2 linked regions of the Homo sapiens genome follow. The protein of the gene in region 1 purifies or fractionates together with the protein of each later gene. This does not show direct contact. Each region holds a gene or a part of one and is shown in the gene's direction. Other genes may lie near its edges.

Evidence for each region. Proteins that work in one complex are often made in the same cells at the same time.
Region 2: the proteins of ASB2 (region 1) and SPINDOC purify together in Homo sapiens (affinity purification with mass spectrometry, with the first as the bait; one large-scale study listed by BioGRID). This does not show direct contact.

The regions. Positions count from the first base shown.
Region 1 is NC_000014.9:93,966,571-93,970,070, reverse strand, and holds part of ASB2 (ankyrin repeat and SOCS box protein 2), read left to right. Parts: intron 1-100; exon of another isoform or gene 101-151; intron 152-3,500. UniProt on the Homo sapiens protein: Substrate-recognition component of a SCF-like ECS (Elongin-Cullin-SOCS-box protein) E3 ubiquitin-protein ligase complex which mediates the ubiquitination and subsequent proteasomal degradation of target proteins.
Region 2 is NC_000011.10:63,823,456-63,825,835, forward strand, and holds part of SPINDOC (spindlin interactor and repressor of chromatin-binding protein), read left to right. Parts: exon of another isoform or gene 1-2,192; intron 2,193-2,380. UniProt on the Homo sapiens protein: Chromatin protein that stabilizes SPIN1 and enhances its association with histone H3 trimethylated at both 'Lys-4' and 'Lys-9' (H3K4me3K9me3).

The DNA.
Region 1 (3,500 bases):
GAGAGGGGAAGGTACTAGGAGGAAAAGACCACTTTTTAAATGCAATTTTGGTCCTCACTATAACCCTGCCAGGGTCCATGTCTCTTTTCCCATTTCACAGATGTGGAGACTAAGGCCCAACTTAGAAGAGAGCCGGCTGTGAATGAACCAGGTACTGCTCTGAGTGGATTTGCCTGAGTAATTTACGTGGATTAACCTAAGTAACCCTGTCACAGCCACTTTACAGATGTCACCTGGGGAAAGATGGGGCTTCTCAAGAACCAATGTTTGGGGTTCTGCAAAGAGGGCAGGAGAGGCACTCCTGAAGGCCCTGCGGGGCCAGGCCTCCCTTGCTCCACACTGGCCTTGGACTGGCCCCTCCCTCTACCAGGAAGCCTCCCTGATGGCTGGGCAAGGCCTATTAGACTCCTGCTTTCCTTGGGAAAGGGCTATTTTTGATTCCAATCAGCCTCCCAGAGTGTCCCTTGAGGCTGCTGGCCTCCCTCCAAGACTTAGGCCCAGAAGGCCGCCCAACCCCCAGACAGAGGTCTCAGAAATCAAGCTGGGCAGCATCTTCATGACAAGGGGAAACTGAGGTCCAAAGAGGGGCAAGGCATCACCCGAATCAATGCCCTCTCCCAAGAGATAGGTGCTCTGACCTTGTCCATTTTACAGATGGAGAAACTACTATTCCAGAGGCTCTCCCGGCTAACAACCAGCAAAGCTGGGATGTGAACTCAGTCAGGCTGGCTCCACACGCTGCTTCATAACTTCCCCCTCGTGCCAGGGCTGAGCAGCACCACCTGTCCCCCAGGAGACGCCGCCATAGCATCCCTGACAGCTGTCACCAGCCTACGACTGCATCCGTTCAGGGACAGGGAGTTTCCTGTCCTGAAGCGGCCCGTGCATTGCACACTTACTAACAGCCAGACCCACAGCTGAGCCTGTACACACATGAACCCTTTTGACTCTACCACCAACCCCATAATAACACTGGCTAATATCTCCATTTTGTGCATTTTATCCATTTTACCCATAAAGGTGGGTAACTTACCCAAGAACCCTTGAAGGCTGAGGACCTCAGTGGGAAAAGCAAGAGATATGTGGGTCCACAGTGGGGTAGGAAATTTGCCTCTTCAAAGGCAGAGTCCCTCTCTCTCAAGTAAACTCCATAACAGCTGTGCTTCCAAGGGTTTGAGCACTGTTGTGGTCCTATCATTCACCTGTCCATCTAGCATTTATTAAATACCTTTTGTGTACCCAGCCTTGGGTTAGGTCCTGGGGTTACGAGTATGACATAGTCCTGCTCCTCAGAAGTTTCCAGACTTTCTAGGGAGACAGGCCTCTAGCAGGTAGTCCAAGGAGTAGACTTTCTCAAGGTCCTGTCAAGGTTAAACCCTTCTCCTCCCTCTGCGTGTACCCTCCATGCAGCAGGCAAAGAGGCTGGTATGGTGCCCAGGGCACAGATATAGGCCAGGGGGTGCTGGGCAGCTGGGAGGATAGCTGGCTGCAGCTGGATGAGGACAGATCTGCTCCAAACCCATGTGTGTGTCAGTTGCTTGGGTCAGTGTTCCTGGAATTGCCAGAAAGAGCATTGGATTTGAGGTTGGAAGATCAGGCTTCAAATCCCAGCTTTCTATATGTCTCTCCTCCTATAAACCCTTCCCCTCCCGCTCTAAACCTTACCTGCCTCATCTGTAGAATGGGACCAATAACGTATGCGCATCAGGGTCCTTTTGGAAGGAGAGGGGCTGTAGAGGAATTAAGTTAATTCAGTGAAAATCTTCCTACCTTCCAGGGCTGTGTGAGGTAATGACATGGATAATTGGCCAATGTAAAGTCTCTGAGTGGTGTCAACCCATGGGAGAGGCTTGGGAAGGGCCTGGTAAGTCTGGAATTAGCTTCGGGATTGGTGATTCTGGGTGACCATTACCTGGCTGCCTTCGCCTCCAGGAAGGCACATGGTCAGGGAAGGGCCACTGCAGCCATGTGCTGTCTATGAGTCTCTGGCCCATACCAGGCTGCAGGGCCAGCAGCTGCCTGGAGATGATGAGGGGTCCCCACGAAATAATCATGTTACCCCTTACAAGCTGCCTACACATCTTAGCTCACATATGCTTCTACAGCATAGCGAAGTAGCTTATCTCCTTCCCATTTTTATTAATAAAGGAACTGAGGCCCAGAAAAGGGGAAGTGACCTGCCCCAGGTCATATAGCTAGTAAGTTGCAGAATTGAAAGTAGACTTAGGGGTCCTGACCTCCAGACTCAAGATCCCTCCACTCCCCCCGGGTTTTCTGTTCCCCCATGGCCAATACTAACCTCTTTTTGTCGACACGGCCATAGGGGATCCCCAGGGACAGAGAATTTGAGGTTTAATAGCACAGAGCCAAACCAAACGTCTCGCTGAGTTGCAGACTCTTTAGAACTGAAAAATCTGCGGAAAACTTCCAGCCCCAAATCGTCCTTTTGCAATGAGGAAACTGAGGCCCAGAGTAGGACAGGGACTTAGCTGAGGTCACAAAGCACTTTGGCCTTAGCAGGGCAATTATAGCTCAGCCTATGACTCTTAGTGCAGTGCTCTTCCCCCTTGTGCCCTGGCTTTGAGCAGACACCTTTAGATGGTGGCACCAGGATGCCAGGCCAGGTCCTGGGCACCAGCACTTCCTGCTAGTTCAGCACCATGTGCACTGAGCCCCTACCTTGCACCAGGCGGTGGGGTATGTAAAGCCAGACCAGCTTTAGAGAAGAGAAGGGTGTCATACCTCACTGGGCAGAGCCCCTTCCCCCCGCCACTGAAGGCAGACCTGGGCCAACTCAGACCTGGCAGGGACCCCAGCCTCAGAGAAGCAACAAAGGAGTGGGAAGCCAGGCCTGGGCCAGCTGGAGATGGGGGCTCCACCCAGCTGCACAGGTACCTCCTGCCAGTACAAGGGCCAGAGGACAGGCTCTAGTCTACCCTGCCATTTAACAGATGGAAAAACTGAGGACACAAGAGAGGAAGAGAGGCGCTCATGGCTGACTTGGGACAGAAACCCAAGTCCCTTGGTTCCCTGTCCTGGGCTCCTTTCACAATAAATAAAACTGCTGCTACTGCTGTAAATAACAGCACTCCAAGCATCGGGCATAAAATGATTGTGAGGTCATGACCCTTCCCCTCCTCTAGTGTGGACCACAGACTGGCCACCTGACATATTAATCTCATTGAGCAGGGGTTCTCAACTCTGGCCACACACTAACATCACCAGAGAAGCCTCTAGCATTGCATTCCCTGGGTCCCAGCCCTGAGGCTTTGAGTTCATTGATTCAGGGCTGAACCAGGTCCTTGACATGTTTTCAAGACTCTCAGCCAGGCCTGAGAGACATTCGTTAAGATGATTTGACTGCCTATAAGAGAAAACCCAACTAACATTGGCTAAACCACAAGAATCTTCAGTACCTAACAAGTAGGCTAGGGTGGGCGGACCCAGCATTGGTTCAGCAGTTCTGCAACATAATGAAGGACCCAGAAAAACTATTATTC
Region 2 (2,380 bases), on another chromosome or scaffold:
GTAGTCCAGGAAGACTCTAGAACCTTCTGAGGACCTTGCCAGAGGAGGATGGGGAGAGTGTGCAGGCCAGGAGAGGAGGTGGGCCACAATGACCCACTGACAAGTAATGGAAAGAGGAGCCTCTCTGTCTTGCTGGTGTTTTTCTTTTTTTTATTTTGGAGATGGAGTCTCGCTCTGTCGCCCAGGCTGGAGTGCAGTGGCGTGATCTTGGCTCACTGCAAGCTCCGCCTCCTCCCAGGTTCACACCATTCTTCTGCCTCAGCCTCCCAAGGAGCTGGGACTACAGGCGCCCACCACCACACCTGGCTAATTTTTTGTATTTTTAGTAGAGACGGGGTTTCACTGTGTTAGCCAGGATGGTCTCGATCTCCTGACCTCGTGATCTGCCCGCCTCAACCTCCCAAAATGCTGGGATTACAGGCGTGAGCCACTGCACCTGGCCTGTTTTTCTTTTTCTTTTTTTTTTTTGGAGATGGAGTTTTGCTCTTGTCGCCCAGGCTGGAGTGCAGTGGTGCAATCTTGGCTCACTGCAACCTCCGCCTCCCAAGTTCAAGCGATTCTCCTTCCTCAGCCTCCTGAGTAGCTGGGATTACAGGCGTGCGCCACCACGCCTGGCTAATTTTTTTGTATTATTAGTAGAGATGGCGTCTCACCCTATTGGCCAGGCTAGTCTCAAACTCCTGACCTCGGGTGATCCGCCCACCTCGGCCTCCCAAAGTGCTGGGATTACAGGCATGAGCCACTGCACCTGGCCGGTCCTTCTCTTTATGATCTCGTGGTTACGGTGGGCTGATCACTCACTCCTTCCTGGAGACAACTTTCTTCCCTTGGCTTTTCAGGCAGCTGCTCGCCTGGTGTTCCTCTTCCCTCACTAACTGTTCCTTCTCAGTTTCTCTTGCCGCTCACTCTCAGCTCCCAGAGTTGGAACACGTCGTATCATTGTCTGCCTTTCCCTTTCTAGAATGTAAGGGCCTGCAGGTTAGGGTGTTTGCGTCCTGCACTATAATATCTGCGGTAACCAGAACAGTGCCTGGCACAGCGTAGGCCCGGCTTATGTGTTTGGTGAATGAGTACGTGCTTAAGTATCCGCAGCCGTGGGTCAGTGTCGGTACTCGCTCCCTGGGAGATCTCATCCAGGTTCACAGCTTTCAATGACATGTGTGTGCTCATAATGCCCACCTTGGCTGCTCCTTCCTGGTTCCATCCTCTTTTCCAGTTGCCCAGGTGGCGTCTCTACATGGGTGTCTAAAAGATCTCAAACATTGTGCCACCGCACTCCAGCCTGGCGACAGAGCGAGACTCCATCTCAAAAAAAAAAAAAAATCTCAAACTCGCCACATTGAAACTGAACCCCCAGTCTCACCAATGCACCCTACCCCTAGACTCCACAATCTTCCCTTTCCCAGTGAACAGGCAGCCCCAGGCTTCAGTTTGCTGTGACCACACCCACACAGTCATCCTCTTCTTTCTCCAGCCCAGCATCTGTCCAGCAGCCGATCCTCCAAAACAAGTTCAGAGCTCACACTGCTGTCACCACATCCACTGCTGCTACCCTAGTCAGGGCCGGCTCTCGCCTGGTTCCTGTAACAAACCTAAGCCAGGTCTCCTGGCTGCTGAGCTTTGCCCGCTATGCTCTGCTCTCCTGTAGCAGCCAGAGTGTCCCTGCTGAGAACACAAGTCAGATCCAGTCACTCCTCTACTCATGGCCTTTCTGTGCTGCTCCTGTTGCACTCCAGATAAAAGCCAGAGCCTTCATGGTGACTAGTGAGCTCCCCACAGGCTCCTGACCTCTCCCCCCACATCCCGCTCCCCGCACAGGCACTGGCCTTGCTGTTCCTGGGGAAGCCAGCGTGCTCCACCAGGGCATCCACATTTGCTCCTCCCTCTGCTCAAAATGCTGTTCCCTCCCTGTCTGCCTCACTGGCTCCTCACTCCCTCTGTGTCTGTGGTCCCCTGTCAGCTTTCTGCTATCCTATTATCCTATCTCCTTTCCCTGGTGTACTTTGCTACTTTGCATCTGTCCATATATAACATACTGCATTTTTTATTTGTTTATCCTATTTATTAGCTCTGATAAATAGAATGTGAAGTCCCAGAAGGCCACTTAGGGAGCTCCATTCACCGCTGTACCCCTAGCAATCCAAACGGCATTGGGCATATAGTACTCAATAAATTATTGTCAAATTAATGAACAAATGGGGTTCAGTGTTCCTTCAGGGAGCCTATAGTTTATCAGGGAGACAAACTGTGTTCTGGGAACACAGAATAGCATTTGGTAGGTGATAAAAATGGGGTGGCAGCCACTAAGTCATTTTAAATTCCAGCACATCGCACAGCAAAATTGTACCTGTTTTCTGTGCCACATTTTAAATAATCGTGT